Linked DNA regions of Homo sapiens. The protein of the gene in region 3 purifies or fractionates together with the protein of the main gene of each other region. This does not show direct contact. Each region holds a gene or a part of one and is shown on either strand. Other genes may lie near its edges.

Region 1 (6,833 bases), on a different chromosome or scaffold from region 3:
CTTTGTCATGAGCTTACCTCACGGTGACAGTTACACTGCTCCTTTAAAGAGTCATTTACATAATTTGTTATCAAATTATTAACCACTTTTAAATAGAATAATAACTACATTTGCCTCCATAATTGAAGCAGATTACTAATTAACATTTTCGAGAATTAAACTGCTTGCTTATGAAGTAGCTATTAAAACTAAATTGAAATGCAATGGATAGTTTCTTGTAGATTTAAAACTGCATTGTACTGTACTTTGTCTATAATGAAAATGTTCTATTCAATAAGGTATCTTTTTTTCTTCTTTTTGGCCAAGATGGCACTAAGTAAAATTTAAATCGAGAGATGGCATAATCCATGAGTCAGCCAGACTTTCAGCTGGAAAAATCTTTAGTAAATACCTTCCTTCTAAATTACAGAAAGTAACTTTTCCATACACACTGTAAACAGCAGACACTCTAACAGAGCATCGGTTATGCTCCATCTCCTAACCTGAAGGACTCTTGTCACACACCCACCTCTGAGAACCCAAGCTCCTCAGTTTTTTTAATCTTTTGGCCACATTTCATCCAATTACCATCATACCTTTTATACGTTAGATTTCCAAGGAGGTAAGTGAATCACGTAATGGGGGTGAACTGTACCCAGTCAAAATAACCTTATCTGACTTTTTCTATATTTTTGATATTTTTTCTCTAAATATTAAGTCTTTCTCCCAAGCTCATGTCTATTCCTTCCTAAAAGTCAAATTGACATGAAGTGAAAAATGATGTGTTGCTTCTGAAGACAATGGATTGCTTGGCATTTGGGATCTTTCCTTTAAAACTGATAATGCTTCCCCAATTCAGTTCCATCTACCTGACTGACTAGAACATTTACTGTGGTACATTTTCCAGGTTTGATAGGAAAATGCTAAGCGTTGTATGACACAGATATTCTTGCTCACAGGCACTCTACCAGCCTTTGAAAAAGTCAATTTAGGCTGGACGCGGCTGCTCACGTCTGTCATCTCAGCACTTTGGGAGGACAAGGCAGGTGGATCACGAGGTCAGTTCGAGACCAGCCTGACCAACATGGTGAAACCCCATCTCTACTAAAAATACAAAAAAATGAGCTGGGTGTGGTGGTGGGCACCTGCAATCCCAGCTACTCAGGCGGCTGAGACAGGAGAATCGTTGAATCTGGGTGGTGGAGGGTGCAGTGAGCCGAGATTGCGCCGCTGCACTCCTGCCTTGGCGACAGAACGAAACTCTGTCTCAAAAAAAAAAAAAAAAAGGCCAGGCACGGTGGCTCGCAGCTGTAATCCTAGCACTTTGGGAGGCTGACGTGGGCAAATCACGAGGTCAAGAGACGGAAACCATCCTGGCCAACATGGTAAAACCCCGTGTCTACTAAAAATACAAAACTTAGCTAGGCATGGTGGTGCGCACCTGTAGTCCCAGATACTTGGGAAGCTGAGGCAGGAGAATTGCTTGAACCCGTGAGGAGGAGGTTGCAGTGAGCTGAGACCGCACCATTGCACTCCAGCCTGGACAACAAGAGTGAAACTGTCTCAAAAAAAAAAAAAAGAAAAAGAAAAAGTCAATTTACACACGCATGAACACTAGTTTCAATAAATGTCTGTTTGGCTATTCCTAATTTTGAATATTTCCTGCACTTAGTATATCTGTGCCATAGTTACAAAGAGTCTTACACATTTGAATATTACCAAACAGGACCCTATGAATCTATGTAAGTATAACTCATTTTATTAGTTTCAAGGCTTCTTTACAAGGTGTCCTTTCACAAACTGTATGACATGACAAGTTTATGCAAGATTACTTTGGAGTAGCTTTTTTACTTTTGGGTGGTTTCCTTATCTTATTAGGGTTTGGAATCAGTTTCTTTATTTTAAGGGGTTGTAATGTTACAGAAGCCTGCCGACCGTCAGCAAGCTTTCTCTTAGGTTTTGACAGATCTTCAAATGAAGTGTCCAAAAGCTCTCTGTCTTGGCTTTCCAGAGGTTCAGTCTCTAAATTTTCCCCAGAATCTTCAATTCTGTCTTGAAGCCATGGTACACTTAAACTGGGGACTCTGGGGATGATGGCTCTTACTTCGTCCACAAAGTCAGTGGTGTTCTTTTTGAACGCCAAGGCTAGAACACATTTTAAGCCAATGACGGGGGCGATTCTCTCACTGAGCCGGGGGACCTGACAGGCAGGGACACTTCTGCTTAGGCTTAACTGAATCAAGTGTGAGGTGATCATGGCAGGCTTGACTGATTTACACACCAGAACTAACAGCAGTTCCCTCCTTTCCAGGGCTCTGGTAACTTCGTTAACGCCAATGGCAAGCTGCTTCCTGACGTGTGCAGGCGTCCACCCTGACACTTGCTGCTTAGCATCTGTTTTCTTCTCCTTCAGATTCTCACTAATATCAACAGCAATGCTGCATTTCTCTCTGCTTTCTTTTTTCAGAAAAGGTGTTTTGTTCTTTTTCTTCTTATCTTCAATCTTCTGAAGTCCAATAGCTTTAAGCCTGTCCTCAAGCGTCTGTAGGATGAAGTGCATATCCTCGCTCTCCAGAGCGCTCCAGCGGATGATGTATGGGTTGTTCAACGACGTCTTCACAACCAGAGGTCTCGTCTTACGGAGAGATCCCCGCCCCGGTGCTTGAGGAGCTGCAGCCATTTTGAAAATCCTTCCAAGAAGCAAAATGACAACAGAAAAAATTCATGTTAGCGACAACTGCATGACTTAAGAATATCTTGACTGTACTCTCTGATTCTTATTTATTTATGTATTTATTTTTTGAGACAGAATTTCACTCTTGTTGCCCAGGCTGGAGTGCAGTGGCACAATCTCAGCTCACTGCAACCTCCACCTCCTGGGTTCAAGCGATTCTCCTGCCTCAGCCTCCCGAGTAGCTGGGATTACAGGCGCCCGCCACCAAGCCCAGCTAATGTTTCTATTTTTTTTTAGTAGAGACAGGGTTTCACCATGTTGCCCAGGCTGGTCTCAAACTCCTGACCTCAGGTGATCCACCCACCTCGGCCTCCCAAAGTGCTGGGATTACAGGCATGAGCCACTGCGCCCGGCCTGTACTCTGATTCTGGATAAGCTAGAGCAAGCCTGATTATATAAGTCCAATTAGGTGAGCATACGCTTGTCTTCCTTTTAAAGATTAAGTAATTTTATTTTTCCCCATTTTTCTTACCCGATTTTGAATGCTCTACGAAGGCTCTTTAAAATACTCAGGACTATGGGTGAGTAGTGTTTAATTTTCCCCATTTTTTTATATGACTTTGTCTTTATTCCTATACAAGCAATATGTGAAAGTTTTAATTATTGCAATCATAGTACAATTCCATTTGTCTATTTCATTTATTAAAAATATTCTGTTTCTACTTGTTCATAATTAACCTTCTAGTGACTGTATGGTATTAATCTTCTAACTTGTTACTGTTTTCCAAAATGCTATCTAGTTGGGCTTCCATGCATTCACTCAACAAATATTCTAGGCCTGGCACACTGGCTCATGCCTTCAGTCTCAGAATTTCGGGAGGCTGTGGTGGACAGATCACTTCAGCCCATGAGTTCGAGACCACTCTGAGCAAATGGAGAAACCCTCTACAAAAAATACATAAATTAGCTAAGTGTGAGGCGTACCTGTAGTCCCAGCTACTTGGGAGGCTGAGGTGGGAAGATCACTTGAGCCCAGGAGGTCAAGGATGCAGTGAGCGTGATTGTGCCACCACACTCCAGCCCAGTAACACATCTGACCCTGTCTGCAAAAAAAAAAAAAAAAAAATGATCTGAGCACCTCCAGTATGCAAGTGGTGTTCTAGGTCCTGGGGCTCACAGTAAGCAAGACCCGATGTCCACCCACGTAGAGCTCCCAATCTGCAAATACTCTGGTGGCCTCTGCCATTCACAACCAATCAGGTGTGATATTTTAAAGAACTGAACAGTCATCTCATGATTAAAACTTCAAATAACACTGTCACGTCCACTTTTGTAAGTCTCCCCACCTCCCAGGGCCCTAAATTTCTTGAATATCCTTCCTACAGCATTTGATACATATGCAGGCATACACTCCCTTTTTTTTGTTTTTTGAGACGGAGTTTTGCTCTTGTTGCCTAGGCTGGAGTGCAATGGCATGATCTCAGCTTATTGCAACCTCTGCCTCCCAGATTCAAGCGATTCTCCTGCCACAGCCTCCGGAGTAGCTGGGATTATAGGTGCCCAACACCACGCCTGGCTAATTTTTGTATTTTTAGTAGAGATGGGGTTCACCATGTTGGCCAGGCGGGTCTCGAACTCCTGACCTCAGGTGATTCACCCACCTCAGCTTCCCAGAGTGCTGGGATTACAGGAACGAGCCACCACTCCCGGCCAGTCCTCCTTTTTAGGGGGACCCCGAGCTGACTTCTCTGGCTGGCAATTCCATGAAGACTAGGGAAATGTAATGAAATTTAAAGATACTAATCCATTGAGGAAAAATGAGTAGAAGGATGCTTAATGGGGAAAATGTTATAAACTATTGGTCCAGAGGGCATATCCTTTTATCCTTCCCAGAGGCAACTACACACTCCCTTCTCTTCCCTCAGTTTTCTTCCCTTCCTTCCTGGGGCTCAGCTAGAATCACAGGGACCCACCTGGCAAAACTAAAGGAAGTTATATCCTTTGCATTTATACTACCACTTACTAGGCTGGCAGCTGATGTTGAAGGCAAGTGTGTCTGTGCAGTGTATCGCTGTATAAAGCACTCTCTCCATGTATTATTTGCTTCTTACAGCATTCCTATAGAATCCCCCAATGTGTGCATTAGGAAACTGACTCACTGCCTAAAGTCACAACTAGTTTTCCAAATCCAAGTTTTCTGTTCTTTCAATCCTTGCTACACCTCAAAAATAACCTGTGGCTTCTTAAAACATGCAGATGCTTGGTCCTCAACCCAGATCTACTGAATTGGAATCTTCAATAATAAGGCCTGGGCATCTGTGCTTATAAAAAGCTGCCCCAGGCCGGGTGCAGTGGCTCACGCCAGTAACCAAAGCACATTGGGAGCCCAAGGCGGGCGGATCATAAGGTCAGGAGTTCGAGACCAGCCTGGCCAATATGGCGAAATCCCGTCTCTACTAAAAAATACAAAAAAATTAGCCAGGCATGGTGGTGCCTGCCTGTAATCCCAGCTACTTGGAGGCTGAGGCAGGAGAATCTCTTGAATCCAGGAGACGGAGGTTGTAGTGAGTCAAGATCGCGCCACTGCATTCTAGCCTGGGCGACAGCAAGACTCCATATCAAAAAAAAAAAAAAAGTTGCCCTCGTGAATCTGATTCAGAGCCGGAATCAGGAACCACTGGTGTAGGACAGGGTGTTTCCACACTGGACAGCCCCGAGAAAGGGCCCCCTGAGCGCTATTGGTCTCTGATATTCTTCCCAGACACTTTCCCACAGAAAAGCCAAATTCAGCTCCTTAGGGTGAGAGATCACACCCTGGTCATCTCGGTACAGCAATCCTGGAGACTTCTGGGGCCTAAGCTGCTTCCTTCACGGTGGCCACACTGTGTCCCCTGACCCCATTATCTCTATGCTCCCCTAGAGCTCAGGAAATCAGGAAGAAAAGTGGCTCATCCAGATGCAATGCAGTGACTGTGAGGGGCTGGCATCAGGTTCAAAGTGGTCAGGAAGAGGGAAATAAGTGACAGGGGGTGAAACAAATAGGATGGGGCAGAGCTCTTGCCAACTGCAAGTCAGATGATGTCTCCACATCCAAACACCACAGAATAAATACTTAAAATCATGCTCCAGAGGGATCACAAAACAGGCTATAAACTTGTCCCACCTGCAGAATCTGCTGGGGCGATAAAGAGAGCCAAGTAGTCTGGATAAGCATAATCTCACGCAATATAATCCAGAAACAAAGTACTGACTGATAAGATTTTATAGCTTTAGAGAAAGAGAGAAAAATAGGCTTTGCTGAGGGCCCTTTAGAGCTGTCTCAAGAGGCCTCTGCTGCCTGTAGATCAAGGGCAAACTCTTTTTACTAGACAGTCTTGCCCTGTCACCTGGCAGTAGTGCAGTCGTTCGATCATGGCTCACTGCAGCCTTGAACTTCTGGGTTCAAGCAATCCTCCCACCTCAGCCTCATGCTGAATAGCTGGGATTATAGGCGCATACCACCAAGCCCAGAAAATTTTTTTAATTTTTAAATTTTCTGTATAGGCTGGGCACGGTGGCTCACACCTGTAATCCCAGCACTTTGGGAGGACAAGCTGGACAGATCACTTGAGGTCAGGAGTTCGAGACCAGCCTGGCAAATATGGTGAAACCCAGTCTCTACTAAAAATACAAAAATTAGCCAGGAGTGCTGGTGCACACCTGTAATCCCAGCTACTTAGGTGGGTGGCTGAGGTAGGGGAATTGCTTGAACCCAGAAGGCGGAGGCTGCAATGAGCCGTAATTGCACCACTGTGCTCCAGCCTGGGCAATGGAGTAAGACTCCGTCTTAAAAAAAAAAAAAAAAGAAATTCTATAGAGACAAGGTCTTGCTTTGTTGCCTGGGCTGGTCTTCAACTCCTAGGCTCAGGCAATCCCGTAGCCTCGGCCTCCCCAAAAGTACTGGGATTGAGGGCATGAGCTACCATGCCCCGCCTAAACTCTAATGTGACATAAAAGGCCCTCCACACTCCAGCTCAATCTCCCACTTAGGCCCTCTTTCTCCTTAGGCCCCACCAAGCACAAGTCCTCAACACCGAACAACATACTATTTAATGAGGCCAGCATTTTCCCACCTGCAAGTCTTTATACACATTAGTCCCTCTGCCTGGAATACCACTCCCACCCTCAGCCGCAGGCCCCT
Region 2 (9,430 bases), on a different chromosome or scaffold from region 3:
TGACGTTTTATTGGGCTTTTGTCTTTTAAAGAATATGTCTACTATGGGTATTTTTTTTTTAAATGTTAAAATGGGCTAGGTAAAAGGGGGCTGCTTTTCTGTTAAGCATCGATAGGTAAGTTGATGGATAAAAGTTACTATGTAAGCCTATTTTTTTGAGTCCTTATTTGAATATTGAAAACATTCTTGATAAAATGTGTTAGTCCATGTTGGAAACAACCGAAAGAACAGAATTCAAGTTCTAGTTCTGATGTTTATTATATATGTTGGATCTTGGGCAACTTACTTGATTTCTCGGAAATTCATTTGTTACTGTAAACGTGAAAGCTATTAAGATTCAAATGAATGGTTTTACAGCAGGTAACATGTGAGAAGACAGCTACATATTTGTAAAGCCAAACCAACAAAGAAATATAGCAAAATTCACAGGTAGATTTATTACAAGAAATGTCCTTTCATGGGGGAAGTAACATTTTCACTAGTGAAAAAGCAAAAAACAAAAATAGCTTTAAGTGAGAAAACTAATTTGTAAAGGGCAAGAGAAAAAAGCTGATGGGACAGTTTAGACTGCTACATTTAAGATTCAGAATGGAAAAATAAAGCCTTTGAACTAAAGTTAATAGAGAAGATTTTTGTGAAGGTGCCACTAACCTATTCATGTAAGTGGCTTAGGTTTTCAAAGTGAAGCTTAATATTAAAAGGTTATAGCTGTATTGCTGGATAACAAATTAAAGCTATAAACCAACTTCGTGGCTTTTCTTTAGAAAACAATCTGAATATATTGTCAGTTTTATAGTTGACAGAATTGGTCTAATCTAAGCAGGAATGTTTTCAGCCAAAAAAAAGATTTTTTAATATAGACATTCATAAAATATATAGTAACAAAAGAATTATCTTAGAAGTCATCTTTTTGTCTGCCAGTGTTACTTCACTGCTTTGATTTATCCTTGGTTCTCCTATAAGCAGAGCCTGAGCCAAAAGCTTACATATGTAAATTTGGGAAGTGATCCCAGGGAACAGTGGCAAAATGAAACAAGACAGACAAGCCTATTAACAACATATTCATTGAGTTAGCCAAAACATAGGCACTAGTGCTAGATCTTGAGGGAACTTGTGACAAGTCCTAGGAAATATGTGTTGTATAGTGACCAGGTCTATGCAACCTACCCCCAAAGGCTGAGAGTGCTGAGATGCCAAAGAAAGAGGCCAACAAATCCAGTTTGTCAGAAAGAAACATTTAATAGGGACTTATGCACAGAAGCCATGTCTCAGGCAGTGATCCCCACAGTTACCCCCCGACCCAGGGCTTATATGCCATAGAGAAAAGGGGGTACATGAAGGAACATGTGAGACACTGAAGTCACCTCCTCAGGGAAAGGCAAGAATGCTGTTTACAACTTAGCCTATAACTTGCTTAAGGCCAGGATTTACAGTGTGTGTGTGTGTGTGTGTTCTTTTAATAGATAAAAGTAGAAATCTTAGAGGGCATTCCAGGAACTGGTTATCAGAAGTCAACATGGTAGATTAGCATCCAAGATGGAAGTTACTTTAGCCTCATACTGTGCCTGTGAATTTCTTTGAGGAGGGGATGGGGTGGCCCCACACCTCTTCCAGGTTGTACATACCCAAGTGCTAGGCAGTTCCTGTAGCTGGTGAGAAGCCCAGGGGCAGGAAGTGAGACATCCCCAGAGCAAGAGGCAAGGTTCAGCCCTGCTTGAAACTGGTTGCCACAGCAGTGACTTTAGTATGAAGGCCAAGAGGATTGGAAGTGACACACAGGAGGTCTCAAACACTGCTCTTATAAATGGCCTGTGTGTCCTAATGCCATCAGAAGTGATAAAGTTGGTACTAGGATGTGGGTAATCCCAGCACTTTGGGAGACCAAAGTGGGTGGATCCCTTGAGTCCAGGAGTTTGAGACCAGCCTAAGCAACATGGTGAAACCCTATCTCTACACAAAGTTTTTAAAAAATTAGCCAGGGCATGGTGGTGCCTATAGTGTCAGCTACTCAGGCGGCTGAGGTGGGAGAATAGCTTGAGCCCAGGAGGTGGAGGGTGCAGTGAACTGAGATCATACCACTGTGCTCCAGCCTGGGCAACAGCACAAGACTCTGTCTCAAAAAATAATAATAATAATAATTCACTACGATGACCCTGACAATAGTTTCTAATCTCATTTACTAGGTAAGTTACAGTTTGGTATACTTTAGATTGCATTTTTTTAAATGTTAAATATTTGGATTTATTTGGAAAAAGTAACTGATACAGAATACTGAATTCCTTATAAACATACAAATTGTCATTTTGTGGACACATGTGAAGCTTTTTTGCCATTTTCCCAGAATAGTAAAGGGCAGAAGATGGGAAAATGAGAGGAGATGAAGATACTCCAAAAGAACATGAATGAATTTGGAAACAAATGCTAGACTGGCAGCCCAGTCCATGCTATATTGTCCTTAACTCACTGAACCACCCTGGTTTTTCCAATGAAAGATAAGCTCCAAAGTTTATTTCAGCTATAAAAGTTTCATTCTTGAAAAAATTCCACTTCAAATCCAGAAACCTAAGCCTGAGGAAACTGACTAGCTCAGTGAAGCCACAAGTAGGAGAAGCAAGACTGAACCTTAAATCTCCTAATTCCCAGGGAGTTTTTTTCTGAATCAGCTAAATGAAGTATTAAAAGAGGCTACTTAGGGGACTGGGTGCATGAATATAGACAACTCTCAGCAAATAAGCCCTATGGTCCACAAAGCTATACACCAGTTCTCTTACTAATTTACCTTCTATTTCCCAATAGGTAAAGGATATTCATTGAACACAAGGACACTTAGAAGTTAATGGCCATTTCTAGACTTGTCTAGAATGAAATCTCCTTGGTATTGTCTGTATTTTAAGGCACTAAATGGATACTACCACTTGGTAGAAAGCCAAAAGGAATATGAAAACTGACTACAGATTAAGAATTAAACCAGTTTACTTAAGGCTTCAGGAGAGAAGCTAAAGTAGTGTTTATATAACTGGATTTGGGGGCCACCTGGATCAAAATCACTTGGGCTCCATGTTAAAAATGCAGGTTTCTGGCCCCTGTTTATCAGTCTCTGGGAAAGGGCTAATCTGCATCTTTTAGCAACCCACCAGGTGATTCTCAAAAAGTCTAAAGTTTGAGAACCACTGGTAGAGATAACTGAGAAAATGGAGAAGGCAGACAGGGAAAGAACAAAGCCAAATAAAGAATGGAAGGGAAATAACTTCTGTTATGATAGGGTGGCTGAGGAAAAGAAGGATGCGGTACATACTAAGGTACTACTTTCTTTTTCTTTAAATCTCTATGTAACAAAAGTTAAGGGCACTAGAGAAGCTTAATAACCTAATTCTAGTAAAGTTAGAACATTGGAAAGATACCTACCTCAAACTTCACATCATTATTTGAAAATACTCAAGATGTACTCCCCTCAGAGCAACAGTACGAGCAACATCCCCTATCAGATGACAGCATCAACACCAAATTATAAATGTTCTAGCCTCATTCCTGGGTCTACTTTGTATCTCCTAACCTCATTTTTTCATTTTACTTTCTCATCTACCTGTTATCCTATTATATTTCATATGTAACCATAAACCACCTTATTGCCTTTTTGTAAAAAGGTTTATTTGGAATCAATCACTGGTACCCAAATAAATAAAATTAAAACGTTTTGGAGAACTCCAAACTCACTTTAATATGAGATAAGCCAAGCAAATGAAGAGAAATAATGGTTGTAACCAGTCCCTGGTAATACAAGCAGTGGCAAACCTTGTTGATCAATTCCAACATATAAACAAGAAAACATAAATGTCAGGAGCTACAAACTTTAGTATTCAGAGGCGGACCTATGTATAATGGAGCCAATAAGACCAAATTGACCTTTCAGGTGTTTCCTTGCTATCTCCCACCCCCGCTCCTCATTTACCTCAAGACACAATGGTTTTTGCAAACGATTATTAAATTGCCTAGTAAGTCATAAAATTATTCAGTTTTTCAGAGACTTACTAGCCTCACTCAAGGAATTACATCTGCTTCTCAAGGGTAGGCTGTGGCAGATTTTTCATATTAACACCTGACATGTAGTTGAAGCCAAAAAAGAAATACTTGTTGATGAAATGACACAATGCTACTTTAAATGTAGACTGAACTGAAATGAACTCCTGTGCAATGCTGCACTAAAGCAGCTCCTCTGTGAGTCCAGGTGGTACTTCCAGATCTTAGCAGTTCTACTTAGAACACTGAACTAGCCTTGTTAATCACTTAAAAGTCTCACATATGAACGAACATCTAAACTCCCATTAAAGCAAAAATATCATCAATGTCATCTGTCTCCTTAATGGTTCCTGATGTACTGTTTTTATTTATTTGCATCACCGTCCACGAATCAGTTTCATTTTCATGGATGCCTCTAAGATTTTCATGAATCATTTTCTCCTTAGTTTGTATGACAGGCATTGAAACTCCACTATTCAAGAGCTGCTTACTGTTAGGGTAGAGATCAGTTCTATGCACAGTACAGTGTGAGAGTCTCCACTTAGCACTGGTATCTGTAGCACTCTTCCGAGTCCCTTGAGAGAACTGCTGAATTTCCCTTAAAAGAGTCGACTGCAACTTTCTCTGTGGTTTCCTTTGTCTCCGTAAAAATTTATTCTGTGATCTTCTCTGTCTCAGATGATGCTTTGAAGTTTTGATACCTGAGCCACGAAGAAGGTGGTTGCAAATAGACGTTTTTATGCACTCTAGTTTCTTTGGCAAACTTTAAAAGACAGAGAGAGGAAAAATCTGGGCTTAAGATGAGAAAAACATTCTCAAGCACTTTTAATTTACCAACTGAAAAGAAAAATACACAACTTATCTACAAGTCCTATGCCTGTGTACAATCCCAGAACCACATCGAAAAATTTCACCCCAAGTCTGTTTTTTGAGAGCACAAATGCCCTCTGATTGAAGTGTAGACGAATGTGTCCCCATTTTGCTTTCAAACTCTCAAAAGTACAGCCGCCTAGCAATTAGCTGAATGGCGAGATACCCTATACTTTAGTGTCAGAGCTTTTCCCTCATAACTGCTAATCTGTTCATAATGTAATGAGTGGACATGAGGAAACATCACAAATGAAAAAATCTGCCAGTACGTATTAATCCGAATCTGGATAATCAGCTTCATGCTGTGGCAGGAAATGAACAAGGAAAAAGGAATAAAGGCTAAGAGGGGTTTATAAAACAATATGAAGACAGGGCTTCTGGCCCAGATACACAGACAGCCTTAAGCTACCCTAATTATGATTCATATGTCATCTTCAAGTTTGGAAATTCAGAAATCAAACAGCTGATCATTTTAGGTGTTTTGCTTCCACACACGGTACACTGCCACAAGGTTCATCAGTGCCTTGCTGAATTGTTTCACTGTTTGTGATAGATTTTAAAAGACGGGCATGGATATAAAACTTTGAGGAAGCCCATTATAATAAAGTAAATCATGATCTTTGCTTCCATACCATTTTCTTATCTCACTATAAGCAGTGGCTTTTAAGTGGGGAGAAGGTGGGTGTACTTCAGAGTTGAAAGGAAAACAGAGGGCCTGAACTGAGTTCCACATCTAACCCCTTGAGCAAAATCCTCCATTTACCCATCTATGAAATGGGAATAATACTGTCTACCTCACAATGTTATTATGGACATTAAATAAATTATAAAGTTTACTACAAATATATTAATGAAACAGCAAAACAGGGCAATCTATGAAGGAGCACTATATCTGGGGGAGTACTGAGTAATGGTTTAACCAATAAACACCAGTTTGCTACCCTTCTCATTAACTTTTAGTTGTTACCTCTGCCTCATCTACCCTTGATTTTAAACCCAATTTTAAACAGAATGCTTCTCTCCATCTCAGGCTGCGTCTCCAGCCATAGGATACATCACTTTTAGATTATTACAGACCTTTAGAGGAGCCATCTCAATGTAAAAACCCCTCAAGCACTTTATCCCTCAGGAATATTCAACCACTTTCCCCATAGCTTTTAATCAAAATGTGTTACAAAACCCTCACTGTATACTTTTTTTTTTCTAAAACAGGAATATATTTTATGCAAATTTTAAAAGAAAATTTAACAAATTTTCAATACGTGGTTCATCCCCAGGAATGAACTTTAAATCCCTGAATAGCTCTAAACTATGGATAAGAAATTATGGGGCATGCACAGGATATTTGTTAAAGAATACAATAAAAAACAGGTCAGAATAATTGCCTCTGTGAAGGTGGAATAGGCTCTTAATACATATTTGTGTCTGAAATCATTACCGTTAAGCCCTGAAGTGTCTAATGTCTAAATTCATGTAATACTTCATGCAATACTGGTTCACAAGCAAAGATAAGCACCCTTAAACAGTTGTGAATATAAAAATCACAGAAAAGAAATATAGATAGAGTCCAGCTGCTACAAACAGTAGCAAGTAGCAACAGTACAACACCCCAGCAGTCTTGTGTGGGCCTCATGGAAGGCAGGCACCTTCTGCTTCTGCTCTCATGCCCTTATCCCACTGCACTGCACTGAAGCTGTCTGCAGAAGGGCTGCCTTTCCCAGAAGACCCTGAGCTCCCTGAAGACCAAGTCACGTCTTTATGCAGTTGTATCCTCAGGCTCAGCACACTAGACACTCTTAATGGTTCCTGAATGAGCTGATGGAAATGATGAAGAGCATAACGGGGACTGAAGTCCAATTAACTTGTTTATCTTCTTCCTCCAATGATACAGCTTTGCTCTTACAATAAAAGCAGCAAATGCAATTGCAGTTTGAGTACATCCCAATTTAGCCCCGCTGCGGCTGCTGGACATCACATTTTAAAGAAAAGTGACCTGAATACTTTTACTCATAACAACAACAGAAAAAGTAAAGTAACATAATTTTTGCAATATACCTACCTAGTACCTTGAGCTTCCAGATGTTTAAGCCGGTTGCTTTTAAGAAGTTTGTTACCCAGAAAAATGGCCTGAGCCTTGAGTTTTTTGCTCCTGCACCATACAACTGCCATCTGGATTTCTTCAGAAAGTTGTGTGAAGGACTCAGCCTCTCGGAATCTTTGCACAAAACTTTTGGCATGAGGAGTTCCTATCACTTTCTGAGAAGAATACTTGGTTGTCTTTAGTCTGGATTGAGAACATTTAAAATCAAAACTGGTCTCCTGAAACGTGGAAAGATGAGAAAAATATATTGGACATGTTACTGACTTGTAATTATATGACAACAAGGAAAGCTAGCTCACAATCAAAATTTAAAAATTAGAATTATCAGTCCCTAAATGCTTGAAGTGATGGATACCCCATTTACCCTGTGGTTATTATGCACTATATGCTTATAACAAAATACGTACCCCATAAATATATATACCTGCTACGTACCCACAAAACCTAAAAATTAAAAAAAAAAAATCAGTCTGTAAGGAAATTTTTTTGCTCACTAAGCTTTCCTTATGTCTTTAAAAACTGAATTTTTCTCCACTGCTCCAAATACAAGTTGTTTTGTTCCCCCTCTGTACCAGGACAGGTCCCATCTGCAGCTGAATTAGATTGACATAGGAAAGTTAACATAAATATCCTAACACACATATCTCACATACACAATAAAAAAACCCCACATGATTAAATACTGGTCAAAGCCTAATTGCAGAGGGTTGGGGGATCACTGAAAGGCCCCTCTTCGCTACACCACCAGATTATCACGACTTGTTTTTCACTTATTTCCGTATCCTGGGCAAACCTCCTCAATTTAGAAATGTTTCTGAAAACAGGGAAGATATGGGGCCCTGCAGAGTGCCCAGCAGAATAAGCCCATTAATCAGTTAATGCCTGCTGAATATCTATTAAAAATGCTCAATTGAGCAACACTTCCAATTCTACTTCAACCATCTTCTGACAAGGCACCTTTACTTCTTCAACCCCTTCTTTCTATATCAAGTCACATTTGGATTTTACTAACGTTTACTATTTCTTTATGAAAATATGCTGCCTACGAGATGATCTGCTCTTTCATTCAAAGCTTACCTTCTTCCAAATTTCTTACACTCAAAAGGAACTTTAAAAAAAAGTAGAAAATATAAAAGTAATGACCCAGGTCAATAGTTTATGTTTGGTGATCAATAGAAGTAGTTTGCTTTAAAGCTAAGCAAGTTAGTGCTATTTGCTAAAAATATAGTAGCAGTTAGTTTTGAGTAAGAGGGATGCTGACCCACCAACTTCAAAGCCAGCTCACCTACAAACAGGTGCACAGGCTGCAGAAGTTTCAAGGTTCACAAAGCACCATAGTTCTTGAGATACAGTTGAAAAACTGTTCTGGGGACTGGTGAATAGTAAAGAAGAAAGACTATGAAACCATACTGCCTGCATTCAAATCGCAGCTCTACCATTTATTCACTATGTGGCCTGGCAGTTTCTTGGCCTTTCTATGCCTCAGTTTCCTCATCTGAAATATGAAAACAGTAATAAGCATGCCCACCTCACAGAGCTTTTGTGATATAATTACATGACTTCATGCATATAAAAGCACTTAGAACAATGCCTGGCACAGAAAGTATTACTCCTCACTCTGAATTCATAAATTGGACAGAACATCAATGGAAGCTGGAGTCCTTAAGTTCAAGAAAATATGTTTAAGAATTCTTAAATAAAAGAAGTAAACTAACCCATGAAAAATACCAGAAGTAGACATTTTGCAAAGACAGGGTTAAAAAAAAAAAAAAGTCAAGTTACTGAGTAAAACAGTAATGCCGATGTACTTATATGCTGTTAGGTCCAGAACAAACAGAATTTACAGACATTAATCAATCATGTTAAAACTTGAACCTCAACAGGAGTAAAGGAATAGCTTCATGACAAAATGATGAGGATGATGACCAAAATGACCGTAGCTAATAACATCTAACTCCAATTAAATGCTTACCATACTCCAGACTACCGAACGCTTTACATGCATTAAAACTAGCACAACCCTATGAGGCACATATTACTATTACAAAATAGAGGTACGGAGAGATCAGGAAACTCACAGAAGGTCACACAGCTAGTACCAAAGCCAGGATTCAAACCAACTGTCTGACTGCAAAGCCTATACTCTTAAGCTGCAGTACAATCCATACTTAACAACAGATCTTACGGTTACTTTAAAATTCTAGAGAAACTCCTACTAAAATATTTCTGAAGGTACTCTATTAACTGAATTAACTAGATGTATTAAAAATCCCTTGCCTCTATTCATTCAGAAGCACACACTGACAACTAAGAAGGCACTAAGCTTAGAGCTGGGGATAAAATGAAAAGATTCAATCTCTGCCCTTGGTAAGAAGCATCCTCTACAAATTAGCAGAAATCATAAGCTAAATTTAATGAAGCCAGACAAACCTGAGTAGCTTT
Region 3 (6,530 bases):
GTGAGACCACTCAGGTCTGCAAAGAGCTCACAGGCAGTTGGTAATGATCAGAAACAAGAAACTACAGGGTCACCAGAACTGTGAAAAAAAGTGGCCCCTCATAATGCAGTGGGGTTGGGGTGGAGGGCAGTCTCCAAAGTGAGACCTAAAGGAAAAAGCACATGCAGAGGCCCGAAGCTGCCAAGTACATGGTATGCATTGAGAACTGCAAAGAGCTCGCTATGACCAGGTGATCAGGAGCAAGACGAGTTCAAGAGAAACAGATGTTCTAGAGAGAAGTTAGTCAGAAAGGTAAAGCAGCTACCATGACCATTGTGTTGTGCCAAATGTTGTGGACACAAAGTGAATACCTGGCCTTTTGGTGCTGGCACCAGTTAGCACAATTTCATTTCATGCAACTATAAGAACAAGTTGTTAATCTTGGCCTTTGAGTATTTTTAATTGATAAATAATAATTGTAGGCCAGGCGTGGTGGCTCACACCTATAATCCCAGCACTTTGGACGGCCGAGACGGGCGAATCACTAGGTCAGGAGTTCGAGACCAGCCTGGCCAACACGGTGAAACCCCATCTCTACTAAAAATACAAAAAATTAGCTGGGCGTAGTGGCGGGCACCTGTAATCCCAGCTACTCAGGAGGCTGAGGCAGGAGAATTGCTTGAACCCAGGAGGTGGAGGCTGCAGTGAGACAAGATTGCACCACTGCACTCCAGCCCAGGTGACAGAGTGAGACTCCGTCTCAAAAAAAAAAAAAAAAAGACAAATAATAATTGTATATATTTATGGGACACAATGTGATGTTTCATTACATGTATACACTGGTGTAATCCAATCAGGCTAATTAATAGATCCATCACCTCAAACATTTATCATTTCTTTGTGGCGAGAACATTAAAAAACCCTCTTTTGGCTGGGCACTGTGGCTCACACCTGTAATCGTAGCACTTTGGGAGGTTGAGTTAGGAGGATTGCTTGAAGCCAGGAATTCAAGACAAGCCTGGGCAACAAAGTAAGATCCTGCCTCTACAAAAAATAAAAAAAATTATGGCTTCTTATAGTGGGAAATGAAAAAAATTAAAATAAAATATTAGCCAGGTGCAGTGGTGTGTGTCTGTAGTTCCAGCTATTCTGGAGGCTGAGGCAACAGGATCACTTGAGCCCAGGAGTTCAAGGCTACAGTGATCTATAATCATGCTATAGCACTCCAGCCCAGATGACAGAGCAAGACTCTGTCTCTTAAAAAAAAAAAAAAAAAAAAAAAAAAGGCCAAAAATCCTCTTTCAGCTATTTTGAAATATACATTAACTAGAGTCATCATGCTGTACAAGAGATCATAGAACTTATTCCTCTTAATTGAAATTTCCCCTCCCCCAACCACAGCCTCCAGTAATCACTATTATATCCTCTACTTCTATGAGCTCTACTTTTTTAGATCCCATGTAAATAATACAGTATTTGTCTCTCTGTGTCTGGCTTATTTCACTTAGCATAATGTCCGCTAGGTTCATCCATGTTATCATAACTGACAGAATTTCTTGCTTTTTAAAGGCTGAATAGTATTCCATTGTGTATATACACATTTACAAAAATCCATCCTTTGACAAGCATTTCTGTTGTTTTCATATCTTGGTTATTGTGAATAATCCTACAATGAAACACTGTAGGGCAGACATCTCTTTGACATACTGATTTCAATTCCTTTGGATATATATGCAGATATGGGATCATATGGTAATTCTACCTTTAGTTTTTTGAGGAACCTCCATACTGTTTTCCAAAGTTGCTGTACTAATTTATAGTATCACCAACAGTATGTTTCCTTTTCTAAGAAAGAAAATTTTAGTTTCCTATTGAGTGATCTATAATCAGGAATGTTCCAGATATTTACTTTTGCAATCAAAATAGGAATAAGGTTCAGGTTTTACTAAGATAGTTATGCAGATAATTGTGAGAAAATAAGGACCCACTTGATCCTATTCCTGAATTATCAACAATGCTATAGACACATGGAAGAAACCCTTGAGTGAATAGACCCTCTCATAAAGATCTCAATTTCCTTTTGAAAGACAATAACATAAATAAAAACTGCTGACTAAAGGAAGAAAAAACAGTAATGCCACTACTCAATGTATATATCTATCTTTATATACATACACATATATATCTATAGATATGTATCTACAAGGAACTTTCATATATTTTTTGATCCTCACAGCTGTCCTATGAGGTAGGCAGGTTTCAGGTATTCACACTAATGAGGTATTTTCCCCATAAACACTGAAGGATGCCAAGAAAAGTTTGCATTCAGATCTAGTTTCCATGTATTCAAAAAATGAATAAGAGTTTAAAAAGTTGTTTTACCAACTTTAGTTTCAGAATTGACATCAGGCATTTCTTATTTTAAAAGTCCACCCTTCAGAGAAGATAAGAAATTTCTGAAGTCCACCTTTGGAATCTTTTGGGATTCATTCTGACTAAGTAACATTTTTAGTTGAGAGAAGTGTTTCTTTGTTTTGCTGGTGTTCTTTGAGGAGCAAGTAGATACTGACTGTCCAGATGTAGGTGTTCTGAAAAGAAACAAAACCACACTTAGTTATACCAACAAATGACAATCATTTTCTACTCTTTTGTATTATGGCCATATACATGCACTGGCTATCCTCGGTGTATTATCATTTGACAAATCCCTGTTCAGTTAGATTTCCTCAGGAATTTCTGACAGAGAAAAGGGCAAGAACAAATGTTTAGGGCAAGAAAGTGTATTATGAATGGTTCAGTATTTTTTTTTTTGGAGACGGAGTCTCGCTCTGTCGCCCAGGCTGGAGTGCAGTGGCGCCATCTCAGCTCACTGCAACCTCTGCCTCCCAGGTTCAAGCAGTTCTCCCGCCTCAGCCTCCCAAATAGCTGGGACTACAGGCGCACGCCGCTACGCCTGGCTAATCTTTTGTATTTTAGTAGAGATGGGATTTCACCGTGTTGCACAGGCTGGTCTTGAACTCCTGAGCCGCCCACCTCAGCCTCCCAAAGTGCTGGGATTACAGGTGTGAGCCACCATGCCCGGCCGTGAATGGTTCAGTTTTGTTGGCACATAGGATGATTTAAGGCAAAGAAAGACAGGCAGACAGACTGGTGCCAGATAGGGCTGGAAAGCCATGCTAGAGCATTTATCCATATGCTACACAGTGATGCTTCTAATCAGAGCTATGCTCCAGAAAGATGATCACACTAAAAGAGTTTGATCCTAGAAGCAGGGAGACCCATGAGGAAAATCACTGCAGTAGTCCTGACAAATGGTGCATAAGGACCTGAACCAGAATATAGCAGCACTATGGAGAAAAAGGAGCAAAAAGATGAAAACAGGGAAGTAGGATATATAGAAATCGGTGACAAGGACCAAGGGAATAGGGATTTTTGAATGTACCTGTCATTTTAGGTCAAAATGTCCAGAAAGGTGTGTTCATTCACAGAATAAGGAACTCAGGAGGATGGACAGGTTTGAGTGGTTAGCTGTGGGGCAATGATGAACTAAGTTTTGAACATGTAGGGGACTGAAGTGGTTATATTTAGCAGGCAGCTGGAAATAGGCACAGGAGATGTTGGAAGTAGAGTAACATACCTAGAAGTCAAATGCATTGAAATGAGCATTGAAGATATGGGAGTATGTGACATTAGAAAAGGGTATGGAGGAAAAATGGCCAAGTCCTGAAATGCATGGCATATTTAGGGAGTATATATTAAACACAGGAAATTAGAAGAAAACACTTAACACTGGCAATTCAAAAACTTCATGGATTAAGATACCTGAAAACCGATGCTGGGCTCTTGCCTTTCGAGCCAGACATGTCATGATTTGGGTTTGCAGTCCTTCTCTCTGGTGTCTTCAGGCTGAGTTTACTTGTAGGAGTGGCAGGATTGCTCTTCAATGTTGACACAAAGCTTCTACTTTTACCATGATGTTTCACTGTTCTGTTGCATGTTTTACAAGTGATCAACTACCATAAAAATAAGAAATATCAGTCCCGTCATTTATCTTATAATTTAACCCCATAAACCACAGGTTCATTGAATTCTTAAATGTCAGGGACTACACCAGATACTATAGGGGTAAGTAAAATAGAGGCTGTCCTTGGGGAACTTGCAATCTAGTAGCGAGAATCAGACAAGACATTTTTTTTTTTTTGAGACGGAGTCTTGCTCTGTCCCCAGGCTGGAGTGCAGTGGCGTGATCTCAGCTCACTGCAACCTCTGCCTCCTGGGTTCAAGTGATCCTCCTGCCTCAGCCTCCCATGTAGCTGAGACCAGGCGCCTTCCACTGTGCCTGGCTAATTCTGTATTTTTAGTAGGCAGGGTTTCGCCATGTTGGCCAGCCTGGTCTTGAACTCCTGACCTCAGGCGATCCACCCGCCTCGGCCTCCCAAAATGCTGGGATTACAGGCTTGAGTCACTGTGCCCAGCCGACAAATTTTAAATGAGAAAATGTTCAATAAAAATGAATGGCTAAACATTTGTATTTAATTTAAAATAGGTTTTCAAAGATAATGAACTCTACTTTTTAAATATAAAACCATGTTTGGTGGGAATTTGGGAAGAGATGGGAGATAATACTCTTTAACATCTGGAGGAATGTTCTTTGTAACAGCAGTAAGCATTTAATATTTTTTTGCAGATGAACTTCAAGCCTCTTCCCAAAAACAACATGGCACAGTATCACTGGAAATTTAAGTAGCCCCTTCAAATCCTTAGCAATTTTGTAAACATAGGTCTAAAGTAACTTATACAACCAAATGAGTTGTTATACTCTCACACCTCTCCACTCCCATCATTAGCTCTAGAGGTTGTCTTTCTTTTCAAGATTCATTTCTCAAGAAATGGTCCATTTTCTAGCTAATTTCCTTTCTTCTACATATCTAATTGACTGTGCACAGGACTCAGCCCATGCCTCGGCAAATTAATACAAACTAGTTTAAGTGAGAAGTAGTTTGATGTTCATGAGCAGATGAAAATGCCAATGGAAGATCTGCATCTATCAAAGGTCTATGTTGCTTTACACTTTTTGGAAGGAGGCTGTATACAGGTTAAAATAAATCAGCCGGGCGTGGTGGTGGGCACCTGTAGTCCCAGCTACTCAGGAGGCTGAGGCAGGAGAATGGCGTGAACCCAGGAGGTGGGGCTTGCAGTGAACCGAGATCACGCCACTACACTCCAGCCTGGGCGACAGAGGGAGACTCCGTCTCAAAAAAAAAAAAAAAAAAAAAAAAAAAAATCAGAAAAACAAATACCTCTAGCACCTTTCTAGCTGACTTCTGATTAAAATACATTAGAATGTAAGCTTCATGAGGGCAAAACACTGCAAGATAGTGAGGCAGCATTTGCTGTCTTCCCATTTAAGAACATTTTCCAAATATGTGGCAGTAATGATTTTTGAAAAATACAATTCTCCAAGAACTAAGAAACCGAATTCCATACTCACTTCAATATTCTATCTCTTCTTTCTTTCCCTTTAACCATTCAATTTTATGACAAAGCAAAATGCACCTACCTGACCAACACTGGTAAACTCCTAAATATGACAATTTTCAATCCAAGTAATTGCTAATTATAGTCTTAGGCCAGACATAAGCTGTCATAATGTCCAGTGCCCGGCACAGTGATAGACAATAAGCAGGCACTTGAACAGTTGATAAATGTTAACATAAAATATGCAGGGATATAAAGTGTATTTGCTACTGGCCTCCATATAGTAAACCGTACGTAATCTGATTTTGGTTGTTTTATTCCATCTTATATCCCCAATATTAAATGTTGCTTGGCATATGATAGACCCTCAATAAAATGTTGAAAGAACAAAAGATGCATTCACCTTTGTTGGGCATACCTGTAAATCCACTCTGACATGGAGTGGGAGGACAGCTGAAGAAGTGACATGATACCTACATACATAACATAGTACTATCTGAAGCAAAGGAGCATTAACTGAAAAAATAATGTAGTGGTAACTGCAATTTAGGTGGAGCCATAACGGTCAGTTCAAGAAATCCGCACATTTGTGAAAAATAATGCTCAACAATGGGATCTCAAAACAATTGAGAGCTCACCATGTTTGGTTTAGGTAATCATGAAAAATAAAAGTAAGCTGTCCTTATAATGAAACACTAATCATTAGAGAAGTGTTTATGTATATATTTTGATAATCCAAATATACTACTATAAATCTCTGAGTTATACTGAGGCTGATTCTTAAACTGATTTTAAGTGAAAGAAAAGAAAATTCTAGTTTACTCATACATACTGGAACTGAAATCTTACCAATACACTTTTGGAGTCTTTGAACTTTTTCACCATTTTTGCTTCTTTAAAACTGAGTGTATAGTTTCTCGCTTCTCGATTAAGAAGTTTCTGTATTTTGGGTGTCAACCTGGCTTTGGGTTTGAGACGCACTCGAGAGTTATCCAGAACCAACAGCTGGAAACAGTATGGACACGTTTCTTCAAAAGTGCTCTTATCATCTAAAATTATACAAATGAAACTCA
Region 4 (9,430 bases), on a different chromosome or scaffold from region 3:
AGGAGTTCAAGACCAGCCTGGCCAATATGGTGAAACCCCATCCCTACTAAAAATACAAAAATTATCCAGGCATGGTGGCACGCTCGCAGCTACTCGGGAGGCTGAGGCACGAGAATTGCTTGAACCCAGGAGGCAGAGGTTACAGTGAGCTGAGACTGTGCCACTGCACTCCAGCCTGGGCAACAGAGTAAGACTGTGTCTCAAAAAAATTTTTTTTAAATGCAATTATAGATATTCTCAAGAATTTTGTTTTAGTTAAAGGGGTAAGTAGAAGCAAGTGATTTTTAGTCATAAAAGACACCTGTAGAACTTTTTAAAATCAGGCACATTCAGCCCTCACCACTGGAGACTTTGTTCCAGTAGATTTGGGGTTGATTCTGGGTATCTGTTTTTTCATGTTCTGTAAGAAAGTATAATTCAGTGCCAAAACCACTAGTGTTTAATATAAGGAAGACCATGGGCATTTCCAAGTTTGTTACAAAACCAACAGCAACTTAGTTTGCTTATTAAATAATAGCAACTCAGTTGTGATTTAGAATAAAAGTTGCAGATGTACCAAGTATTTTGTTGTACATTTGATTTCTGGATTAATTTTGAAGATCATGCAACTTACATTTCCATATCCCTTTACTGATGATTAGAGAAACAAAAGAAGGTATACATTTGTAAAACCTTTCAAAAACGTTTACATATTTATTTCCTTTAACTTTTACGACAATCCCGTAGGATAATTGGGACAGATATTTATTACTATCCTCATTCTATAATGGAGAAAACTGAGATTCAGGCTGAGTGATTTGCTCTAAATCTCCCAGCAAGTTTGTTCTAAAGATAGGACTTTGGGTTTTAGACTATGTTGTAATTTCATATAATAGTTTTACTTGTTTATCTTACTGTTTTTCTCAGACTTAAAGTTTGAATTTGGTGAACACATGCTTGATGATAGTAGATGGGCCTGTCAAAAATACTTTGGAAGATGGAAGAAAGCACAAAGTATTGACTTTACACATATACTCAAAAAGTTAAATGAGAACGCAGTTTTAAAAATGGGAACATCTTCCTCTTCTCTATCCAAATATTACCCATTCCTTAAGATTAAATTGAAATTAGAGTTCTCCTTGTTTTCTATAGGAAATCAATTTTAAAAGACATCTTTCTTTTAAAGCTTTTATAGGTATATCATGGTTTGGAATCAGGTCAAATGCAAGCAGTTTGTGTCTTAAGTTACATTCTACAAGTGATTTTATTTATTTTGTTTGTAAGTTGATTATCTAGAATTCTAACAGGTATCTATCTCTGTAGGTATGGTATTCTAAAACTAAGTTAGGTCTCCAAGATGAGTCATCAAGCATACACACACAGACAGACACATGTTTATGTCAATAGTAGTATAAAATCGAACCATCTTAAATAGCATCATTTCCATGGGACATAATATACCATTATATTTTCTACTCAGAGTATCCGGAAGATGTCTCATAGAAACTCCCTCTCCATAGCTACTTAAGGAGATAAGGCAGAGATTAAAGATTTTGAGGGGGTCCATTGGTTAGGGCTCCTTGGGATGGGGGACAGCTGTGGAATATGACACAGAGAGAGAGTTGCATAGAAGCTTCTGGAGCTTCTGGACCAATTAATTATTCCCATTTAGGATTTAAAGCAGCTGAGCAGGTTGAGGAGAATTCAGGTTATTTAGTCCAGTGGTCTCTAACCTGCTTTGATTGTGCACCCTATCAGTTTAAAAAATTTTTGAGCCTGCTTCCAAATATATATATGTTTCTTATAAATTATTCGCATCTCTCATTATACCAGTGTGCCTTATAAAAACTACATACACACAAAACAGATCTTAAGATAGTGAATTAAAAATTAAATGGGCCAGGCATGGTGGCTCACGCCTGTAATCCTAGCACTTTGGGAGGCCGAGGCAGGCAGATCACGAGAGGCCATCCTGGCTAACACGGTGAAACCCCGACTCCACTAAAAATTCAAAAAATTAGCCAGGCATGGTGGCGGGCACCTGTAGTCCCAGCTACTCAGGAGGCTGAGGCAGGAGAATGGTGTGAACCCGGGAGACGGAGCTTGCAGTGAGCCAAGATTGCACCACAGCACTGCAACCTGGATGACAGAGCAAGACTCCGTCTCAAAGAAAAAAGTAAATGGAGGCTGGATCCAGTGCCTTGTGCCTGTAATTCCAGGACTTTGGGAGGCCGAGGCAGGATGACCACTTGAGGCCAGGAGTTCAAGACCAGCCTGGGCAACATAGTGAGACCCTGTCTCTATTTTTAAAAAATAAAAGTAAATGGAAATAAAAGTTTTATTTTCTTCCTGCTCCTGAAATTCATGCCTTTCCTTTGCAGAGGACTGTTGTAGTGTCTTGAGGAAGGGAGTGTCCTGGTGTTACTTGCAGTATGGTCTGGCTCCACTGGCTTTAGAATTACCTGGGATATTTATTAAAATGCAGATCATTAGGCCATACTTAATGAATCAATGGAGGTAGGGCCTGGTTGTCTCCATTTTTGATACATTCTTTAGGGGAGTTTTGTACACATTAAAGTTGAGTGCCACTGTTGATGGGCATCTCTCTTTTTCCTTGGTAAGCCTGATTGTCTCTTCACAATTTATCAAACTGATACCTTTGAAAGGGATTCAGGGAGGAATATGAACCCCTACAGTCCTATTCCTTTTGTGCCATAGAGGCAAAGATGTGTATATATGTGTGCATTTTTATGGGAATACGTTTTCTTTAAATTGTCATAGGAGTCTCTGGCCAAAAAAAAAAAAAAAAATTGGTATGGACAACTGATGTGAATTATTATGTAACCTACTAGTTTTCAGAGAAAACCATTATAAGATTCTTAACCCCAAGGCTCTATTGGGCATAATTTAATCTTCTAAAATGATATAGAAAGCGTTTCATTGTAGTGTGAACATTAACTTTTATTTTGTGGTTATCTAAAAGTATTGATTGAACATTTTGGTTAATAGAAAACTAAATAACAAAATAATTCAGTTTGGGGCATTCTAAGGTTGAAGTGTCAGAGGGAGCCATGTGGAGCTGTCCCTTGTAACTAAAAGTTTATTATAATGCATGTATTTGCACGTACTTAAACCAACATAGAGCCATTGTTTAATTGGCCACTCTTATGTAGGAAAAGGGAAGAAAGGAACAATGTGTAAGTAAAAAGTAACCTAATTTAGCTTTATTCTGGGGAGAATGTTTAACAGGCTTTTAAAGAATTAATCACCTTTTTAAACTGAAGAAATAATTTACATTCACAATGATTAATTTAAACAGTACAAAGGTACTGAAAAGTATGCCTTACTTCCACCTAAAATTCCTTCCCCATTTTTTCCAGAAGCAACCACTAGTAATAGTTTTTGTGTATCTTTTTAGAAATATTATTTACCTCGTCTTTTTTTCCTTTGTTCTCCCCTTTCTCCCTTCCTCTTTCCTTCCTACCTAACACCATGCTTCTTTTACCTTACAGTTTCTTAGAGGTTGTTCCATAATATCCATTAGAGATGTACATCATTTCCTTTAATGAGTTGGCATATTCCATCATATAAAGGGATCATAATTGAAGTAAAATTGAGGGATGTTTAATTGTGTCTAGTCTTTCATGATTGGTATTGCAATGACTGTCATTGTACTAATGTCCCCTGAGCCTTTGTAGGGTATATAGCTACGTAATATATTTTTAGAGTCTCTGCACTTATAGAGACTTCTCTATAGGAGACTCCACTTATACCTACTACATACCTATAAGTAGAATTGTTGGTGTGTGCATTTAAAATTTTGGTAGCCATTGCTAAAATGCTTTTCAAGACCTTATACTGATTTAAAGACCTTTTGAGTGCCTGTTCATTCATTCTCATGTCAGCAAGGTAGTACCAAACTTTTTTATCTTTGCCAGTATGATCGATAAAAAATGGTGAACAGAGCTGAATTTGTTTCAGCTATCATTCAGAGCTTTTCTTCATCCACTCTTATTAAATTTTCAGTGACTCTTTTATGAGTTGGACAGCTGTGGCAGTTGGGATGGGGCAGATTCTTTATGAGCCAAGTATTTCTGCCAAAACAACATTGCTTCCCAGGCTTACTAAGTTACTATGACTGTCTTAAAGCTAGCCAGCCTCTGATCTCTACTTCCTAAAGCCCTGGGGTTGGAGTAGGAGTGACTGAAGTGGGGATTCTGAAGAAAAAGGGCAAGATACGGTATTCCTGTCATTGCCGAAGGTTGGCACCAATCCTATAGGTCATTTTCTCCACTCTTCCTTACTCTGCCCTTTCCCCTGGTACATGCCACTGATGTTGTTTGTCAGCGTAGCCATCCTGGAAGTTTGAATTTGTCTGTCAAGCCTGTACACACTAGCATTGTCAGTAAGCTTTGTTTTTAATGTAATACATAACAGCCAAATATTTTTATCACTATAAATCAAATAATGGCAAAATCAGAGCCAGGTATGTTTCTTCCAGCAGTGTCTTCTGGCTTGCCCTCTACACTAGTAACCTTTTCCCAGCTTTATTTTTCTTCCCTGATTTTCCATTTATCCTGATTTTCTTATCTGTTTATTTTATCTTGTATGTGGTTTTCATAAACAGTTTCAAATCTCTTTGAGAAGAAAATGCAGAGTATTACTCAACAAGTCATAGCAAAAATTAAAACAACAGAAAGGGAAATTAAAAGTTGAGAAAATGCATTCATTATCATTTGCTTTGTAGTAGCTCTGCTTTAACTATTTATGTAGATTCCTTCTATTAGTATTTGAACAAATGTCATGAGGTGCTGTGTTCATATTTCTTTAGCTACTCAGTAGACTTGATAGGAGCCACAGCCCTGGGACAATTCTTGGCACAGAGTTGCTCAATAAATAGTGTGTGGGATAAATGGACTATGCATACATTCCATTTGGCTTATTTTTTCCTTGGGTTTTAGAATAGTCAGTTTCTTCTTTCTGGGACAGTCTGAAGTAACCTTCCAGAAACTGAGCCTCGCTCTGCAACCCATCCTTATGTAGAAGACCATATGAGTTAGAGAGTCTCCAGGCCCTATCTTTTGAGAAAGTCTGTGGACATATTCCGCTTTTGCTGGATTACAGTTAAACCATTTAAACCAAACCTAAAAGAGTAGCAAAACAGTTGACTTTGTAAAAGGTCAGATGTATTTCAACACAGAACCATCAAAACACCTATGGAGTGAACCATACTTTATATCGAGTTTGACCCTATCTCCCATTCTTACTTGTGCCAATTTTCCTTTTGGCCTTACCTATTTTTTTCTTCTTTACAGATTGCTTGCACACATTTAGATGTGGATTTAGTCTGCATAACTGTAACAGAGAAACTACCATTTTACTTCAAAAGACCTCCTATTAATGTGGTAAGTGTACTTTCCATTCTGTATTTGAATCTTAGAAACTTACATTAGCAAATTGGAAAAGAAGCAGAAGAAATCAGTGTTCTTAGAAGGAAAAACAAAGGCTAGGGAATAGGAGGCAGTTTTAGAAAAGAGAATTTTCGTTTTGAAAGCTGAACAAAGGGAGAAAGAAAGCTTAAAATTAAAAATATCCAGTTAATTATTAAGATGTTTTTAAAAGGCCATAGAACCCAAAATTTATAAAGGATATTTCTTAAGAGGATAGCTAATAATCATGGGTACTTATAACCTGAACATCAATTATTAAGGGAACAGAGCAGTCAAAAAAGAAGAGGAAGGGAAAAAATAAAAAGCAGAGGATCCTTGAGGCACCAGGAAGCTAAAGAGAGTCAAGAGGGAACAGGGCATGGCATCACATAGACGTGGTCTATGCAAAATTAAAATCTGTGTTGAAGCATGCTTATTCACAAAGAGCCCAGAGTTACTTTTATATGAACCTAATAGGATGGCCATGTGTTCAGAAAACTTTTTTGTTTCTCCCTCTGCTATAGAATTTTTCTCATTCCCCTTCTACATAGTTTTCTCTTGTTTTCCCATACCCTTCATCTTCTATCTGTCCATTCCTTCTTCTGTCTTAATTTCCTCCCATTTCCATCATAAGGTAATATTATTTCACACCAGTAACTATTTTAGTAGCAAAAGGTCAGCACAGCTGTTAACTATTTGCTTTGCCAGTCAGATCCTAGGAGGAGTTCAGATGCTATTTTAGAGTAGTGGCTTCCAAAACCCTAGTCTCCTGTTCTCAAAAACTGGTATCCAAGGAGAAAAAAAAGAGTTTAGCAAATACAGTCAAAATTACATATCCAATCCTGTCAGAATCAGAAGATTAATTTTTTTTAAGTTTTTCAAAGGATAATTCCCTTGCTCTTTTGCCTCTGTAGAATCATAACTTTCTCAATTTTAATTCTCTTTGGTGCTAAGGAATTGGCTTGAGAATTAGAGGGAGACAGTAAGAGGAGAAAATGGAAAATTAGTATGTGAAAATTCAGTGTGGCAAAAATTATTAGTAGTAGTAGTAGTAGTAGTAGAGACAGGGTGTCACTCTATTGCCCAAGCTAGAGTGCAGTGGCATGATCATAGCTCACTGCAGCCTCAACTTCCTGGGATCAAGTGATCCTCCTACCTCAGCCTCCTGAGCAATTGGGACTACAGGTGCATGCCACCACACCTGGCTAATTTTTTTATGTTTTGTAAAGTTGAGGTCTCACCATGTTTCCCAGGCTGGTCTCAAACTCCTGGGCTCAAGCAATCCTCCCACCTCAGCCTCCCAAAGTGCTCAGCTTACAGGCATGAGCCACCATGCCTGACCCACCCAATGGGGAAAAGTTTAAGTTAGCTTATGTTCTACCCCTAAAAATATGCTACTCAAACTAAAAATATATCATCATATATTTCAAGGGAAAAACATAAAAGCTCTTGTTGGGTAAATTTTTTTTTTTTTTTTGAGACGGAGTCTTGCTGTCACCCAGGCTGGAGTACAGTGGCACGATCTCGGCTCACTTCCACCTCCACCTCCCTGGTTCAAGCAATTCTCCTGCCCCAGCCTCCTGAGTAGCTGGGATTACAGGTGCACACCACCATGTCCGGCTAATTTTTGTATTTCTTTTTAGTAGAGATGGGGTTTTACCATGTTGGCCAGGCTGGTCTCAAATTCCTGACCTTGTGATCCGCCCGCCTCAGCCTCGCCAAATGCTGGGATTACAGGCGTGAGCCACCACACCCGGCCTAGGGTAAATATTGACAGTACTAGTGAACATAACAATATTGGCTGAGCTCAAATCATTGGTTCCTTGTGTTATTGCCAGTACTTATAAATAAATAAGTAAACAGTGAAAAACCACTGAATCACCACATTTTCGAGTTGGAAATCTATGTTGTGCAACAGTTCATTTGTCAAATGTGGGGAAATGAAAAACTACAAGAAGTCATTCAGTTCTGTAGTCACACAGGGTTAGGAAAGTTCTGATTGGTTGTCTGTCAAGATCTCTGATGTGCCCCAGGTACCTATGATAAAAGCCACAAATTAATACAGTACTCAAGGTTATGGCAGTCTTGTTGGCCTCACATATTGTTTCTCTCCAGAGGTAGCAATCTCTGTCTTTAGAAGTTTGCCTAACCTTTTTACCAGCCTCAAACTGCCAATACAGTTTCTGTGGAAGTAGCACCCCCAGAGTTGGGCACTATAGCTACTCAGCAAATTGCTAGTGAACTTGCAACTTTTTCACCTTTTTCTTCATCTTAATGAACTAGGAAGGTCATTTTCTAGATGGCTTTGCCTGAATAAGCCCACATACGATACTGTGACCTTTGATGGGAGGAGCTAGCATGTGATGTTAAGGCCAAGTCCATGGAATGGACAGCAATGCACAACAGATAATTCCTCATGTCTCACGACAGTGGTAAGATTCCCAGTGGCTGCTTTGGTGAGAGCTTTTAATTGGGGTTCTTAGGAACTTGTATTATTATTTAAACCAGAGTGTGAGCTCCTAGAGAACACCGGCTGTCATGGTCCTTTTTTAAGTACTCCACTATCTTGCGTATAATGAGTCCTCCTTACAGTTTGTTGAGTCAATAAGTACATGTTGAACTTAGCATATCAGGGTACAGCATAGGGGACCTGGCCAAATTCTGCTCGTTGTTAGTCACCAGCTGGATGTCCACATTCATCAGGAAGTATATGCCGTGAGGGAAGTGGGGCAGTGGGGCAACATGAGGAGGACAGTGGCACTCAAGACAGTTGACACCAGGACACCCCACCCCCTGATTCCATTGGGAAGTTCAGGAAAGCTCCTTTCGTTTGATGGGCATTTTTCGCTTAATTCCTACATTTTTCAATTTAAGAATTCTGAAAAGTAAAAAATTCTGTCAAGTGAGAGGGATATGCAGTTTAACATGGTGTCTGCTTTAAAAAAAATCTGGTGTGAACATTTTGCATATGTTGTTTAATAAAAACTAGATGATGGAGTGGAAAGAAAGGCTGCACAAGATTATTTTTAGTCTTCATCTAGTAGAAGAGTAGGCTGCACTGTGAATTGGTCAGGAAGCAGAAGAGTCCCTGTTAATTTATTCACCTATTTTTTATTAAAGAGAGAAAGTTGGAAACATACAGGTGTCTAGCTTGTTGTTCAGAGTAAATAATAGTTGTGGCATAGGTATGTATGTATTATTTGTAACATAATATCCAGTCTGGCTGTGGAGCTGTTTGTCTACATAAAGTATGGAAATGTATACATTGTGAGAGCACAGTCTTGGTCCTTGCATGTTCCCTTGGCTTTGAGTGTAAACTTGTTTTTGGCCTTGAGAAGTTCATAGATTGGCTTTAAAAGGATCACTTTATAAGGATTACTTTTTTTTTTTTTTTTTTTTTTGAGACAGAGTCTCGCTCTGTCCACCCACGCTGGAGTGCAGTGGTGTGATCTCGGCTCACTGCAGCCTCCGCCTCCTCAGTTCAAGCAATTCTCCTGTCTCAGCCTCCCAAGTAGCTGGGATTACAGACATCCGCCACCACAGCTGGCTAATTTTTTTTTTATTTTTAATAGAGTTGGGGTTTCATCATGTTGGCCAGGCTGGTTTTGAACTCCTGACCTCAAGTGATCCACCCGCCTCGGCCAGGATACTTTAAATTAAGCACAGATCTTAATTTTGTCACGATGTGGGCCCTTTTCTTTGGTTGTGGTGAAAAGCAGTATTAAGAAAGGTAAATCATTCATCTTTTACCAATAGGCCAGATGCCATGTGAGAATCATCAGCTTGGAAGGTTGGGATTGTGAAGGAGGGCCCAGGAGCTCTATAGCATACCAAACACTCCATTTGTGTACTTTGCAGCTCTTTTCCCTTTTGTCATCTTCACTGTATGCTTAGGGCACCATAATTTCAATTATGCAATTTCCTCTAAAATCTCCCACAAACCTCTTCTGGAGTCTAAGTAACTTGTCATCGCATTTCTGTCATGTGATAGATGTGTTTCTAAAAAATTGGATTCCACTCCT

Evidence for each region.
Region 1: the proteins of RMP24 (region 3) and RPP38 purify together in Homo sapiens (co-immunoprecipitation; 3 studies listed by BioGRID and IntAct, with this or other methods). This does not show direct contact.
Region 2: the proteins of RMP24 (region 3) and RMP64 purify together in Homo sapiens (affinity purification with mass spectrometry; 2 studies listed by BioGRID and IntAct, with this or other methods). This does not show direct contact.
Region 4: the proteins of RMP24 (region 3) and RPP30 purify together in Homo sapiens (affinity purification with mass spectrometry; 2 studies listed by BioGRID and IntAct, with this or other methods). This does not show direct contact.

What each region holds. Positions count from the first base shown.
Region 1 is NC_000010.11:15,099,141-15,105,973, reverse strand, and holds the end of RPP38 (ribonuclease P protein subunit p38), read right to left. Parts: intron 3,757-6,833; 5' UTR 3,638-3,756; intron 2,670-3,637; 5' UTR 2,660-2,669; coding exon 1,808-2,659; 3' UTR 1,717-1,807; downstream 1-1,716. UniProt on the Homo sapiens protein: Component of ribonuclease P, a ribonucleoprotein complex that generates mature tRNA molecules by cleaving their 5'-ends. Also a component of the MRP ribonuclease complex, which cleaves pre-rRNA sequences.
Region 2 is NC_000003.12:113,001,225-113,010,654, forward strand, and holds the end of RMP64 (nucleolus and neural progenitor protein), read right to left. Parts: coding exon 9,419-9,430; intron 7,207-9,418; coding exon 6,947-7,206; intron 4,807-6,946; coding exon of another isoform or gene 4,781-4,806; coding exon 4,312-4,780; 3' UTR 1,220-4,311; downstream 1-1,219. UniProt on the Homo sapiens protein: May play a role in cortex development as part of the Notch signaling pathway. Downstream of Notch may repress the expression of proneural genes and inhibit neuronal differentiation thereby maintaining neural progenitors.
Region 3 is NC_000018.10:35,974,872-35,981,401, reverse strand, and holds the end of RMP24 (UPF0711 protein C18orf21), read right to left. Parts: intron 6,507-6,530; coding exon 6,307-6,506; intron 3,993-6,306; coding exon 3,802-3,992; intron 2,568-3,801; coding exon 2,396-2,567; 3' UTR 2,124-2,395; downstream 1-2,123.
Region 4 is NC_000010.11:90,880,518-90,889,947, forward strand, and holds part of RPP30 (ribonuclease P protein subunit p30), read left to right. Parts: intron 1-5,294; coding exon 5,295-5,384; intron 5,385-9,430. UniProt on the Homo sapiens protein: Component of ribonuclease P, a ribonucleoprotein complex that generates mature tRNA molecules by cleaving their 5'-ends. Also a component of the MRP ribonuclease complex, which cleaves pre-rRNA sequences.